Homo sapiens: one gene and its partners. The protein of the gene in region 4 purifies or fractionates together with the protein of the main gene of each other region. This does not show direct contact. Each region holds a gene or a part of one and is shown on either strand. Other genes may lie near its edges.

What was found. Proteins that work in one complex are often made in the same cells at the same time.
Region 1: the proteins of TMEM63A (region 4) and SLC75A1 purify together in Homo sapiens (affinity purification with mass spectrometry; 2 studies listed by BioGRID and IntAct, with this or other methods). This does not show direct contact.
Region 2: the proteins of TMEM63A (region 4) and ALG5 purify together in Homo sapiens (affinity purification with mass spectrometry; 2 studies listed by BioGRID and IntAct, with this or other methods). This does not show direct contact.
Region 3: the proteins of TMEM63A (region 4) and ATP11C purify together in Homo sapiens (affinity purification with mass spectrometry; 2 studies listed by BioGRID and IntAct, with this or other methods). This does not show direct contact.

Annotation. Positions count from the first base shown.
Region 1 is NC_000004.12:2,932,026-2,936,307, reverse strand, and holds the start of SLC75A1 (major facilitator superfamily domain-containing protein 10), read left to right. Parts: upstream 1-1,482; 5' UTR 1,483-1,539; intron 1,540-2,120; exon of another isoform or gene 2,121-2,363; 5' UTR 2,364-2,384; coding exon 2,385-2,555; intron 2,556-2,644; coding exon 2,645-2,741; intron 2,742-3,098; coding exon 3,099-3,202; intron 3,203-3,549; coding exon 3,550-3,708; intron 3,709-3,795; coding exon 3,796-3,957; intron 3,958-4,154; coding exon 4,155-4,263; intron 4,264-4,282. UniProt on the Homo sapiens protein: Probable organic anion transporter which may serve as a transporter for some non-steroidal anti-inflammatory drugs (NSAIDs) as well as other organic anions across the luminal membranes of renal proximal tubules at the final excretion step into the urine.
Region 2 is NC_000013.11:36,961,341-36,964,840, forward strand, and holds part of ALG5 (dolichyl-phosphate beta-glucosyltransferase), read right to left. Parts: intron 1-3,500. UniProt on the Homo sapiens protein: Dolichyl-phosphate beta-glucosyltransferase that operates in the biosynthetic pathway of dolichol-linked oligosaccharides, the glycan precursors employed in protein asparagine (N)-glycosylation.
Region 3 is NC_000023.11:139,923,054-139,926,553, forward strand, and holds part of ATP11C (phospholipid-transporting ATPase IG), read right to left. Parts: intron 1,179-3,500; exon of another isoform or gene 1,095-1,178; intron 1-1,094. UniProt on the Homo sapiens protein: Catalytic component of a P4-ATPase flippase complex which catalyzes the hydrolysis of ATP coupled to the transport of aminophospholipids, phosphatidylserines (PS) and phosphatidylethanolamines (PE), from the outer to the inner leaflet of the plasma membrane.
Region 4 is NC_000001.11:225,875,881-225,879,380, reverse strand, and holds part of TMEM63A (mechanosensitive cation channel TMEM63A), read left to right. Parts: 5' UTR 1-161; intron 162-1,786; 5' UTR 1,787-1,800; coding exon 1,801-1,986; intron 1,987-3,500. UniProt on the Homo sapiens protein: Mechanosensitive cation channel with low conductance and high activation threshold. In contrast to TMEM63B, does not show phospholipid scramblase activity. Acts as a regulator of lysosomal morphology by mediating lysosomal mechanosensitivity.

The DNA.
Region 1 (4,282 bases), on a different chromosome or scaffold from region 4:
GATAAGCTGGTGGGTGGGGGGCAGCCAGTGAGTCAGAAGTACCCATTGGTCAGGTCAGAGATGAAATCACAGGGAGTCGAAGCTGTTTTCGCACTGAGTCAGTTCCTGGGTGCCACAACATCAGATGAGCCTGGGTGGTGCCAGGTGACCCACCAAGTGCTGATCTTAGGCTTTACGATGGTGATGTTATCGCCAGGAGCAGTTTGGGGAGGGTCAGAATCCTGTAGCCTCCCGCTGCGTGACTCTTCAACCGTAGTTTCTAATCTTGTGGCTAATCTGTTGGTCCCACAAAAGCAGGCTAATCCCCAGGAAAGGTTTCCTTTGGGAAAGGGCTGTTATCATCTTTGTTTTAAACTAAGTTCCTCCCACAGTTCAACCTGCGTGCAGCAGTAAACAAGGAGGGCATGGAGGTTAGAAGCAAAATGGAGCTGGTTATCTCACTGTCGGCAAATTTTGCAATGGCAGTTTCATAGAGATGCCTGTCCTCTGGGAAAAAAGCTAATAACAGGTTGTCTTTTTGGCTGCAGGTGGAAAACTGCATCTATTAGGAAGAGGTGGGGCTTTGTTCTTACCCACAATTGGAAGTTCTCTATGGAGTAAAGGCGGTATGTGTGCCACCTGATTCCTTTCCCCATGTGTATCTGGTTAGGGTCGGCCACGTGAGATCCGCAAGCATTTTAGAAGGTGGGAGGGGAGGTGGGAGCTGGCTACAGGCCAGGCGTTGGCGTGGTTCCGTGAGTGTGCTCCAGCCAGGCCCAAAGCTTCTCCTGCCCAGAGGGACCGTTTCCTCCAGCGTGGGTCGGGTGCTTCTGCGCCCGGAAAGAGCGCCAGCTCCTCCTTCGGGTGACCCAGGGAGCGGGGCTGCAGGCAAAGGCGCAGGCGGCCAAAAAGGTGCCAACCGGGTCCTGTGGCTTTCAGTTGTCTCTGCCCACCCAATTCACACCATCTTTCCCCCTCAGCCGCCTGTCCTGGGACTTCAGGCTCAGCACCAAACGCAGCAAAAGTAGGTGCACAGAGAGCGGGGTCAGCTCACGCAGCCCGAGCAGAATGGCTGTGCTGCCGCCCCAGGCCCGCGGCCACCGCTGTGTGTGTGGCAGGAGTCAGCCCCCCAGCGTGGGGCCCCGAAGCCCGCGGTCCTTCCACGGGGAGGGCCAGGCCCGCAGGGCGCAGACGATGGGGGACAGGCTGCGCCAGCGCTCGCCTGAGGCCCCGCACACAAACCTCAGGCCCATGGGTCCGCTCCGCGGGGCAGGCGTCGTGGGCCCAAGGAGGCCAGGCCAGGAGTCTCGGCCTCGGGGTTACGCGGCGGCGGGCAGCTCTTCCGCTCCGCTCAGGGTGCTGCTAACCCACAGCCAAGCAGCGACCCGCAGGACCGGCGAGAACCCCGCCACTGACTCCGGCCGGAAGAGAACGTGCAGAGATGTACGTCACTTCCGGGGCGTGGCGTGGCCGGGCGTGGCCGTCCCGCCCCTGGCGGCGTGCCTGGTGCCCTGTTCCGCGTCTGTGCGACCGTCCGTCCCGAGCGCGCAGCCGCGGCAGGTGCGGGGCGGGACCGGGGGCGCCCGGGGTGGGGGGCGTAGGGGGCGCTCGGGTTGGGGGTGGGACAGGGGACGCGCGGGGTGGGGGAGGAGACGGGACCCGGGGTACGCGGGGGTGGGGCGGGTGAGAGGTGCGCAGGGTAGGGGAGTAGGGGGCGCGCGGGGTGTGGGGCTGGACCAGGGGCGCGCGGGGTGGGGGCGGTGGGAGGCGCGCGGCGTGGGGGTTAGAGGGCGCGCAGGGTGGGGGACGGGACCGGGGACGCGCAGGGTGGGGGGCGGGACCGGGGGCGCGCGGGGTGGGGGCGGGACCGGGACGCACGCGGGATGGCGGAGTGGGAGGCGCGCGGGGTTGGGGGTGCTCCTGCGTCCGGTGTGCACCCCATGGCCCCCGCCAGGGAGACCGAGTCCGGGCCAGGGGCCGGAATCGCGGGGCGCGGGCCGGGGCTGGGGTTGGGGTTGGGATCGGGATCGGGATCGGGATCGGGATCCGGGTTCCCCGCGGCTTCAAGTTTTCTCTCGCTGTTACGAGGGCGTGGGAGGCGCGGCCGTGGGGTGGGGTGGGGCCAGGTCCGCGATGTGCTCACCCTGGTCTCTCAGGACCGTTGCCTTTGCGGCTATTTTTTGTGCAATCCCCGAAGCCTGCGTTTCCTGCTGCCTGGGTTCGGGGCGGGGGCATCGCGCAGGCCAGAACGGCCCCTGCGTCCGTAGGCCAGAGCCCCTGCCATCAGCCCCTTTAGGGTGCTCGCCGGCTGTCGGGTGTGGGGGTATGCCAGGCCCCGGAGGACTCGGCTTCCCCGCTAACCCGACCCGCCGCACCCCACCCAGGCCAGGTCAGAGCAGCCCACCATGGGATGGGGAGGGGGTGGAGGCTGCACCCCGCGCCCACCCATCCACCAGCAGCCGCCGGAGCGCCGCGTGGTCACCGTTGTCTTTCTCGGCCTCCTGCTGGACCTCCTGGCCTTCACGCTGCTGCTGCCCCTGCTGCCCGGGCTGTTGGAGAGCCACGGCCGTGCCCACGTGAGTCCTTGCCCTGCGGCCCACAGTGCCCCCTGCCCCCCAGGCCCATCAGACCTCCCCAGCCCTTATCGTGATTCCTCATCCCCTAGGACCCCCTCTATGGCTCCTGGCAGGGCGGGGTGGACTGGTTTGCCACCGCCATCGGGATGCCAGTGGAGAAGAGGTACAACAGTGTCCTGTTCGGAGGTATGGCTGGCTCTGTGCCCTTGGCGGGCTCTCTACGGTCCTATGTTTGGTGGACGTGGTCCAGCCCAGGCCCCTCCCCAATTCTCGGTCCTTGCCTTCCCACTCCCTGGGCTGGCATGTCTGGTGCCCTTGCCCACATGTCCTGGCTTCTGGGCATGATCCCTTGCCTCCGCGTGTCACGTTCAGATCCTTCCTCATCTCTCCATTGGGGCCCCCTCGGCTCAAGGGCCATGGCCTGTGAGTGTAGGGCCCAGCATGACTGGACCCTCAGGACGGGGCTGGACATTGGCCTTGAGGGCCCCAAGACCACAGCTCATGGTGCCAGGCAGCCCCATGATGGTGACATCTGTCTCTCAGGTCTCATTGGCTCGGCATTCTCTGTCCTGCAGTTTCTGTGTGCGCCACTCACTGGGGCCACCTCTGACTGCTTGGGGAGGCGCCCGGTGATGCTGCTGTGCCTGGTATGTTCCTGGGCCTGGGTGCCCATGGGGAAGCCTCCTCCCACCCAGCCAGTAGCCCCATGGGGTTAGGTGGGGAGAGGGAGGTGGCTGTGGGCCCCTCATGGCCACTGGTTGGCCCTCATCGCATCCTGGAGGGGGTTCTCGGGGGACCAGTGGCTCCTGTTCCAGAGCCAGGCTTTCAAGGAGCTGCTCCTGGCCCCTAGGAAGGCACTGAGAACGCAAGTGGCCCTCAGATGCTTCGAAATAGGGCAGGGTTGAGGGGTGTTGTCTGGGTTGCCAAGCCCTACTCTGAGCCACTCCTGGCCTTAAGCGACCGCCCCTGCCTCTTGGCCCCTGCCCCTGGGCAGATGGGTGTGGCCACCTCATATGCAGTCTGGGCCACCTCTCGGAGCTTTGCGGCCTTCCTGGCCTCCAGGCTGATTGGGGGCATCAGCAAAGGGAACGTCAGCCTCTCCACGGCCATCGTTGCTGACCTGGGCTCGCCTCTGGCCCGCAGTCAAGGCATGGTAAGTGCACAGGCTGGGCCTTTGGGGTCCTGGTGGTGACTTCTGGGCCTGGGTCTCCCTGTGCAGCTCGGGTGGTCTTTTCCCTAGGCGGTCATTGGGGTGGCCTTCTCACTGGGCTTCACCCTGGGCCCTATGCTCGGAGCCTCCCTGCCCCTGGAAATGGCACCCTGGTTTGCCCTGCTCTTCGCAGCCTCCGACCTGCTGTTCATCTTCTGCTTCCTGCCAGAGACGCTGCCCCTGGAGAAACGGGTAGGGCTGTGGTCTGGGACCCACAGGCCTAGGGGCTGGAGGCTTGATTCCATAGCGATGTAAAGTGCCCCTGTGTGCCAGCCCCAGATGCCAGGGAGGCTGGGCCGCTCTCTTGGTGTTGGGACCCTTGAGGCCACAGTCCGTGGGTTGCCAGGCCAGCAGCCGCTCCTGCAGGCTCTCCAATGCCATCCCCACAGGCGCCCTCTATCGCCCTGGGGTTCCGTGATGCGGCTGATCTGCTCAGCCCCCTGGCCCTGCTGCGCTTCTCGGCTGTCGCTCGTGGCCAGGACCCACCCTCTGGAGACAGTAAGGACTCGACCAACCC
Region 2 (3,500 bases), on a different chromosome or scaffold from region 4:
GAAGGCAGAGGCTGCAGTGAGCCATGTTCACTCCAGCCTGAGTGACATGAGACCCTGTCTCCAAAACACTAACAACAAAAAACAAACACATACTATTTACATAGCACTTACCTTGTATGAGGTATAAGTAACCTAGAGATGATTTAAAGTATATGAGAGTATGTGCATAGGTTATATGCAAAGAGTACACCATTTTATAGCAAAGACTTGAGCATCTGTACAGATTTTGGTATCTGTGGGTGATGTTCCTAGAATTCATTTACTGTGGATACCAAGAGACAACTGTATATATATGTATCTGAATTTGAAGGCCAAATTTACATTACTTAAAATTTTTTAATCTATTTTTGTTTTTAACATACCCATTTAATTTATATTAATATTTGAATATATATACTTAACATACCTATACTCAACTCTGCAGTTCTGAATCCAAAGAGATACTGAGAGTCTTTTTTTGAGACAGAGTTTCACTCTGTCACCCAGACTGGAGTGCAGTGGCGTGATCTCGGCTCACTGCAACCTCTGCCTCCTGGGTTCAAGCAATTCTCCTGCCTCGGCCTCCCAAGTAGCTGGGATTACAGGTGCCTACCACCACGCTTGGCTAATTTTTAAAAATGTATTTTTAGTAAAGACGAGGTTTCACCATTTTGGCCAGGCTGGTCTTGAACTCCTGACCTCAAGTGATCCACCCGCTTCGGCCTCCCAAAGTGCTGGGATTACAGGCGTGAGCCACTACGCCCAGCCGATACCAAAAGTCTTAATTTTAGGTATACTCCTTTACAGATTTCTAGTACCTAGAAACTCTATTTGATTTCGATTTCTTGAAAGTTCTGAGAAAAATTTCAATGAATCCTTAAGAAAAAATAGTCAAATGTCAAAGGTGACATTTGGAAATAAGGCATAGATATACAACTTGGTTTCTGTAACTTATATTGTTCTTTAGTCTTGATTTAAAGTGCAGGAACAAAGATGTTTAAATAAAAACCACTGATGACGTATTATTGTGGTGAAGGGTATACTGCTCATTAAGCTGATACATGTATACTTGGTGGTTCTCCTTTAGAGGCACCAAATAAACATAATGTACCCTAAAGAAAAATGTGAGCAGTTAAAATTTTAAGTGAGGTGAATCTTGTTTTTTCCCTAATAAAATTAAAACAAAAAACAAACCGAGACAGGTTTCACCATTGTTGCCCATGCTGGTTTCAAATTCCTGGACTCAAGCAATCCACCTGCCTCAGCCTCCCAAAGTGCTAGGATGACCACTGTAAGCCACCATCCCCAGCCACTAAGTGAGGTCAATCTTATGTCAATTAACACAAAATAAATAAAAGGCTTGCATGTAACATTAACACTAAAAAAAGAAAAAAACCCCATTAATGTTCTTTAACTTAACCCCACAAGAACTGCTGTCTAATACAACAGCCCCTCAGCACATGAGGATACTGAGCACTTGAAATGTGGCTAGTCTGAATTGAGATGTGCTGTAAATTTGAATATATAGTACAAAGAAAATAATGTAAAATAGTTCAACTTTTTTCATACTGATTGCATGGTGATATGACAATATCTTGGAAATATATTGGATAACAAGTAAATCTGATCAGCTTTTTACTTTTTTTAAGAGACAGGATTTACCCTGTTGCCCAGGCTAAAGTACAGTGGTGCAATCATAGCTCACTGCAGCCTAAACTGGGCTTATGAGATCCTCCTGCCTCAGTATCCTGAGTGGCTGGGACTACAGGCGTGCACACCACCACACCAAGCTAATTAAAAAAATTTTTTTTTCTGGAGACAGGGTCTTGCTATGTTTTCCAGGGTGGTCTTTAACTCCCGGCCTCAAGTGATCCTCCCCACCTTGGCCTCCCAAAGAACTGGGATTACAGGCATGAGCCATCTTTTTACTTTTTAAATGTGGCTAATAGAAAATTTGAAATTACATATATGCCTTGCCTCTTGTCTCATATTTCTATTAAACAATGCTGCCCTAGAACAATCCTGACAGGGAAGCTTCATGATTTTTAAGTTATCAATCCTAACCTTTTATATTTCAACAAAAATGAAAGATCCTCAACAACGAAAAATAGTATTCTCAATTTCTAAATTCTTCCTTTCAAACCACAAAGAACCTGCATCTCTGACCCTAGTTCTGGAGCAATAGCTGACTGAAAAATAGCTAATGCAGACAGAGGGCTTTACTTCTAGAGTCGTTTCTTAAATTAGATTTTCTGATTTCGAAGTCTATTAACTATGAGTTTATTTTATTTTTCAACATAATAAAAACACATATCTAAATTTGACAACTAATGTAGACTACTTAAAATGTTTTAATCTAGAAAAACAAGATTTTAAAAAGTCTGAATGATAATTCTGAAAATACATTTTTTAAAGTAGTATTTTGGGGGTTATATGGCATATATTTCTAGGAAGACAACAGGTCTTTGAAAACAGATGCACAAAAATTGTAGAGAGTATAAAAATGGACATATACTGGCATAATCATGCAGATACCCAACATGAACAGGATTCACACAGAACCCATGACTAAGTATTAGTTCTTTCAACAGTATTTACTGGGTACCTACTATGTGCTGGGCATGATATTAGATAGTGGGATATACTAATAAGTAAAATTAAATGTGACTCTTGCTCTCATGGAGAAAGATTATGCTTTAATCGAGAAAAAGAAACATTAAGTAATTACACAAATATAAGAAAAAACTACAAATGTCATAGGTGCTATGAATACAGCACATGGCACTGCAACAGGATATAATTAGGGGCACCCGAGCTAATTATATTATCTTTAGAGAGTGAGGGCAGGCTACCCTAAGGAAGATCTGAAGGAGAAGGTGAGAAGGGGCGTGGTTAGAAAAGAAAAGAGTCCGCATGTGGAGACACAGGTGGGGCCAGACTAAAGACCATGGGAAGCCCATGAAGGAATATAAGCAGAAGAGGTGCATATGATTGATCACACTTAAGTTTGCAAAGACCTTGTGGGCTACAGCATGGTAGTATGGAGAAGGATGGTGTTCTGGATGGCGGTGGTAGAGATGGAGAGAAATGGAGGAACACAAAAGCTAAAATCAACAGGCCCTGTCATGGATTGGATATATGCATGTGGAGAATGTCAGGGCTGATGTCAGGGTTTCAGCTTCTGTACAACAGTGCTAGCCACCTGTATCTCCAGTATATTTCAAAAGAGAGCTCAGGAGTATCAAATGCTGCTGATGGGTTAAGTGTGACAAGTGGTCATTTAACATGACCACTGGCTTCAATGACATAGAGGTGGCTAGATGTTAAGATGAAGTAGACTGGGTGCAGTGGCTCACGTCTGTAATCGCAGCACTTTGGGTGGATCACCTGAGGTCAGGAGTTCAAGACCAGCCTGGCCAACATGGTGAAACCTCATCTCTACTAAAAATACAAAAACTAGCTGGGTGTGGTAGCGCCCACCTGTAATCCCAGCTACTTGGGAGGCTGAGGCAGGAGAATCA
Region 3 (3,500 bases), on a different chromosome or scaffold from region 4:
GGGATTACAGGCGTGAGCCACTGAGCCCCACCTGTTATACTTTTTTTTATAACAGCTCAAACTCATTTGGGGTTGGCATGTATGTTCTCTAAATTGACTGGTTCCCATGCTTTAAGTACAACAATGACCCTGCACCATTGCTCAGGTAATTGCCTCCTCCTGTAATGAGACTGCCCATCCCTAAAATCTCAGAACCTTCAGCCCTTTGGGTCCCCAGAGGCCCAGTTGACAGGCTACTTCCTCCATAAAGCTCTCCCCAAGAAATGAAGCCAGAGAGCCAGTGCCTCCTTCTGAATGCCTACTGCACTTACTGTGTATGTCCTTCAAAAGGATGGCTCTGGTGACCTACTGGCCTTGTGTGGAGGATGGTCCTGTGTGCTGGTCTTCTCTCTCTTCTACCAAACTGCAGGCTACTGGTGAGCAGGGCTGTACCTTACACACCTCTACAGCACCAAATAGGGGATGAGTGTTCCAAGAAAGCTGTGATTCACATGAATGTTTTCAGAAAAGAAGCCAGAATAAATTGTACACTATACTATAGATCCCTTAATCCTTATTACTGCAAAATACATTAATTGTGAAGCTTAAAGAACGTCCCCACTGCTTACACAACAGGTGTAGCTTACATAATCTGCTCTACCCAGCTGTTACTTACTTGTGGCAATTCCCTCCTGGCTTCTACTCCCTGTCGATATGTGGGATTACTGCACCATCCAGTATGATTTCCTTATTCCTTGCTCCAATCATAACAAATTTGTTAATTTTCCTTTATAACAGTAAAAATGGCTGAAACTCCAAATAACCAGAGATATCCCTAGGGTTTTCCATGACTATAAAACTCAAAAGACAATCCAGGATATAAACCAATATTTGTAAATATTGCCATAAAATTCATTGCTCAGAATTTTTTTTTTCCTATATAGTCTTCTTTGACAAAATACTGCAGTATTCCCACCATTTGGAAATTGTGTTACCCAAAAGGTATAGAATGGGATGAAGTGATGATGCAAATGAGTATTAGGACTATGAGCAAATGAATGGGAGCAGTAACAAAAGTCCAAAAGTCAGGAAAAATGAAAATCCACGAACTTGGCGATGCTCCAGAGAGGAAACCAGCAAGTGTTGACGCTAAACTGGCAGAAACATCAATACTTCCTGGCTCCCCCACTGGGTGCATCAATTTACCACCGGCAGGCTGCTCTTCTGCTTCAAGTGACAAACAGTAAGTGCTTTCAATGACAGTATGAAAAGGAATGACCCATAATCTAGAAGCATGGCTATGGGCAGCAAAGAAAAGATGTGATTGCTGGGAGTCTGTCTCAGCTGTACTGCTGATTAGCTTAATGATCTTGGACAAGTCATTTCCTTTCACTGAAAAAATACCAGTGTTTCACAATATTTGCGTGATGGAAAGAGTTAACATAGCAGGCCTGACACTGCTATTCTTAGTAAGGCCTGTTTGCAAGGTTGGTCCTTGGCTGGTGTCTGGGGACTTGGATTTTGGGAGGGTTTCCATCACCCTGATAAGAGTGGCTCACTCTGCTTAAGCTGTGTAAACAATAGGGTTTACACTGAATACCTGCTTTCCTCCTTGGGGTCTGGAATTTTGCTGTGTACCAGGTGGAGGGTGCCTGTGTGACCAGCTCCCACTAAAAACCCTGGGTACTGAATCTCTAATAAGCTTCCCTAGTAGACATTTCACACAAGTTGTCAAAACTCATTTGCTAGAGGAATTAAGCATGACCTGTGTGATTTCAGTGAAAGAGGACTGGAAGCTTGCACATGGTTTCCTCCAGACTTGGCCCCAATGAGCCTTTTCCCGTTACTGACTTTGCTCTGTATCCTTTTGCTATAATAAATCACATCCGCAAGCGTTTCTATGTACTGAGTTCTGCCAGTGAATCAACAAACCTAGGCCGGTTTTGAGGACCTCTGTCACAATTGGTATAGTGTTGAATAGTCTACCAAACGTTTTTTTCAACAGTCTTGTGAAATAGGTATTATTATTCCCATTCTATCGATGAAGAAACTGAAGTTCAAAAAGGTGAACAGAGAGTGTGCCCAGAAAATAAATATTTCCGTGTTTACTATATTATATATTGCTGTTCTCAAATTTTAGTGAACCTAAGAACCACTTGGAATGCTTGTTAAAAACAGTTTCTTGGAGTCTGTCACCCAAGACTTGGATTCAGTAAGTTCAAGGCCCAGGAATCTGTATTTATAGTAAGCATACAGGATTATTATTATTTGAGATGGAGTTTTGCTCTTGTTGCCCAGGCTGGAGTGCAATGGCACGATCTCGGCTCAGTGCAACCTCTGCCTCCCAGGTTCAAGTGATTCTCCCGCCTCAGCCTCTCAAGTAGCTGGGATTACAGGCCTGTGCTACCACTCCTGGCTAATTTTGTAGCCCAGTCTGAAATGCATAAGCTTCTTGGTGGCTGCTTCCTAAACTGATCATTCTTCATCTGTTATTACTGACTCAGACTGTGTTACCAATTCAGCTCAAAACAATTAAACAAGTATTAATTGAACATCTACTGTTTACCTGATGCTGTGCTAACTGCAAGATCATTTTCAAGAACACTTCTGATTTTTCCAAGAATACCTTGGTAAAGAGAAAGGGACTAGGAAAACATTGCCACATTAATACTTTATGACAACATATAATAGAGACGTCTAAAAAACAAATGATGATATCTGCTTGAACAGCAATATCATCAACATCACCAATCCTCCCATATTCCATTAAATACATATGGCACAAGAAATCAATGATTTCTACTTCACAAATACAGGTTAACCTTCTAAATCTGGAAATCCACGGTCCATTATCATTTATAAATCACATCTTCTATTATCAAGAAGTCAGCCGACCCAGTAATCCGTCCATACACTGCAATAATTGAGGGGCTGTCTGCCAATGTGTGGGCATAGGGCATCCTGTGCCCATATCTGCAGTGCTGAGCACTCATTCATCATTAAGCTGCAGCAGTGTTAACATATGCTGCAGTTGTGCCAGTATGTTTTGTTTTACGATCACCGCTAATCTACCCTTATACCAGGCCAAGAAGGTAAATGTTAAGTGAAAGGAAATAAACTCGAGAGCCAGCACCTAATTCATTTGTGGAAGCCCAGAACCTCCCTCCACCTAACCAGAAAAACTCCCCCAGTCTCGAGGGTTCCAGATGTAAAAGGTTCATCTGTATAAAGCACTACAGATGTACAGGAAATTCCACCACCTTGAAGAAAAAAATAGTATTTTTTTTTTATATCCCATGCATTCACCCTCTTTGAGAGAACTGAATAACCATGTTAGACAAGCAATGAGCCTTGATTTTTTCCATCACTCAACAAACCAGTATTTGATTTCACTCAGTGGGCTAGTTCTTTGCACATCATGCAGACACAGCAAGGTTAGTTATGGTTCTTTCAGGGGCCACTGGCCATCCTTTACCTCCTAGAACCCACTGCTCAGCAGGTGGTAAACTGGCAGCTTTTTG
Region 4 (3,500 bases):
GCTGGTCAGGAAAGCCCTGCAGGACATGAGTGTTAGGCCCGACGCCTGGCCCTTGGCAGCTTGGGAGGTGGCTGGGGCTGCTTTTGCCTTTGCCAGAGACAGCTCCAACTGAGGACCTCTCCAACGGGCCCATCCACAGTCCTTCCTTCCCCTAGTGTCTGGTAAGTGTGGGGACAGGAAGGAGGAGGGGTAGGTGGTGGCCTTGAAGTGTTGGGCTGGTGTGTTCCATTGGGTGGTGCCACTGGGGGATTTTAAAGGGAAGCCAAGAACATCTGTGTTCCAGAGGTCACTCTTGTGACACTCTGTTCAGAGTCAGCAGCCCCATGACTCTGGCATCACAACCCCCACTACCTCCAGCCATTGCCAAGTCTCTTAGAAGGTTGAGAAAGTCACTTGGCTGTCTGTGGGATGCTCCCATGTTCTTGGGCTTTCCACTCATTCATGCTTCCTGTGCTTCGTGTGTGTGTGTGTGTGTGTGTGTGTGTGTGTGTGTGTAGGTAGGTAGGTAGGTAGGTAGGTGTCCATGTGTGATTGTCCCCAGCACTCTAGGCCTAGGGGTTACCCAACATACACACCTCACCAGCACTACTGGTATCCAAACATCTGTTTGGGTTCTCTATATCTTTTCTTCTTGTTCTCAAGATCTTTGTCCCTGTAACAGCTAGAAGCACCAGACTTAGCAGAAAAATCCCCTGGGAATTCTAGATTTACCAGATTTGGGCAGGTAGGATCTTAAGCAAGTCCAGGCTGAATATGTGTTCTGGCCCTTCAGCCACAGCATGAGAACTTGGACACTAACTCCCGGTCCTCTGGTGTCAGGGGACAGACACTGGAGATTTCTATTAGCTTCACCAGGGGCGCCAGGAGCCTCAGGAAGGAAAGGTCAACAACCCAGCCTGGAGCAGTGTTTGCTTTGGAAATGCTGGGCCTTGCAGTTAGACTGATGGTACCCAGGAGGGGTATGTGTGTGTGAAAGCGCAGAGCTAGGGGACCCAGAGGTCCCTGAGGAGGCCCTGGGACTCCTGACTCCCTCCCCGTCCCTACCCTAGACCACCCCCTTTACTTTCTCCTCTGTGGCAAAGTAAAAAGAGAAGTGGCATCTGAGAGTCAGGATATTGGGTTTGGGATTCAATTCTGCCCTGACCAGCTCCTTAACCTTAACTTTGGGGCAAGTTATTAAACCTCTGAGGCTTGGTTTCCAAGTATAGCAGATGGACCCATCTCTGAGGTCCCAGCTCTGACATTCTGTGAGCAGTGGGAGTGAGGTGTTGTCTGTGGCTCGTGGATGGACCATCGTGAATACTTGGATGTTCCCTTCTTCCCTGGTTGTTTATCCCGGTGTTTTCCTCTTCCTGCCTTTGTGTGCCTTTCTCCCTCTCCTCTGCCTGTACTCTAGATCCGCCAGTGGCTTCTGCAGGAGTGACTTTCCCAACACGAGTCCTCGAGGCTAGAGGAACTTTAGGACTTCTTAAGACAGCAGCTGCAGCAACTCTGTCCCTCCTTTGCTCCATGTCGCCCCCTCTGGGGATCTGCCCACTGTGTCCTGGATGAGCCATCCACTCTGACCATCTGATCCCCTGAGATTGTCCCACAATGCAGCCATTCTCTGTGGACACTGCCAGGCACGCAGAGGTCCAATGTCTGGCTCTCCCGGACTCCTTGCTGCTGGCTCACTGCCCGATCAGTCCCTGGGAAACGCCTGCCTTTGGCTCTGCCAGCACTGGTGGGAACCTGCAAGAAATTTGAGCCCTGAACGTCTGCCTTGTCCTGTTGTCCTGTGCTCCAGGGAAGACAGGCGCGATGATGGACTCCCCGTTCCTGGAGCTGTGGCAGTCCAAGGCAGTGTCCATCAGGGAGCAGCTGGGACTCGGGGACCGGCCCAACGACTCCTATTGCTACAACTCGGCCAAAAACAGCACCGTGCTCCAGGGGGTCACCTTTGGTGGCATCCCCACTGTCCTGCTCATAGACGTCAGCTGCTTCCTGGTGAGAGCCCTCATGAGTCGTGTCCCACTGCCTCAGTTATTTGTTTAAATGCCCCACCCAGGGCCTTCTGGGAAACTTAGATGAGAAGTCAGACATAGCTGGGTTTAAATCTCAACTCTGCTGCTTACCAGCTCTGTGACTTAGGCGTGTTACTTAGCTTCTGTGCACCTCCCCTTTCTGCTCCGGAAATGGAGATCATAATTCCTATCTCAGAGAATTTTGGAATTTGGATAAGGCCAGAATACTCATATAGCTATGCCTGTGATTACTACCGTGATTGCAGAGCTCTCAGCCTGTCGTATCTTTAAGGCCCTTGGGAAGGGTCATCTCAAGGGGTTGAGACATGTGACTGGAGAGTACGGACTAGAATAGAGCAGCTGCAGTTCCCAAGTGTCACCTCCTGTTCCCCTCTGGCATCCCTGGGGTTTTTAAAGAATCAGAAGCTGGGCCAGGTACGGTGGCTCATGCCTGTAATCTCAGCACTTTGGGAGGCTGAGGCGAGTAGATTGCCTGAGGTCAGGAGTTCGAGACCAGCCTGGCTAACATGGTGAAACCCTGTCTCTACTAAAAATACAAAAAATTAGCCGGGTGTGGTGGTCGGCGCCTGTAATCCCGGCTACTCTGGAGGCCGAGGCAGGAGAATTGCTTGAACCTGGGAGGCAGAGTTGCAATGAGCCGAGATCACGCCACTGCACTCCAGCCTGTGCAACAAGAGCGAGACGCTGTCTCAAAAAAAACCAAAAAAACAAAAAAAAGAATTAGAAGCTGATTCTTAGAGCGTACCTTCAGCAGGTGGCCTTTCTTTAACGTAGATCTCCTTGTTCACAAAGATGCCCCATGGCATTGTTCTTCCTTATGCAGACTCAACGTTGGCTGGCTGAGATTTATTGGGGTTAAAGTGCCCCTTCTTTTCACAAATGCCATGGGCTGGCCAGTGCCTCTTGATACTGTCTCCTAACATGTGGCAGAGACCATCTGAGTGAAGGGGGCAGATGGCTCTGATGGAGTAAACATCCTTGGACTGCTTGGAGCTGGAGACTAGGCTCGGGTGGGGAACATGGGGAGGGTGGCTTAGGGTAGCAAGGAGGAGTGGGCAGGGGTGTGGGGGTGGATTTCAGAATTGGTGGGATTAGAGGAGGGTGGCCTTGGGTCTTCAGGGTGGGGAGAGTTTGGCCAAGGTGAGGAGTACAGAGAGGGGGACCTGGGCAGGGACCCTAGCTGGGCTGGGTGGGTATTGTTGCAACAGTGTTGGCTGAGAAGAGAGTCACCCTCTATTGTGCTGCTGAAGGTGAATTTTTTTTTTTTTTTTTTTTTTTTTTTTTTTTTTTTTTGAGACAAGGTCTCACTGTCACCCAGGCTGAAGTACAGTGGCATAATCACAATTCACTGCGACTTCCTCCTCCTGGGCTCAAGCAATCCTCCCACCTCAGCCTCCTGCATAGCTGGGACTACAAGCACATGCCACCGTGTCTGGGTTATTTTTGTATTTTTGGTAGAGATGGGATTTCACACCA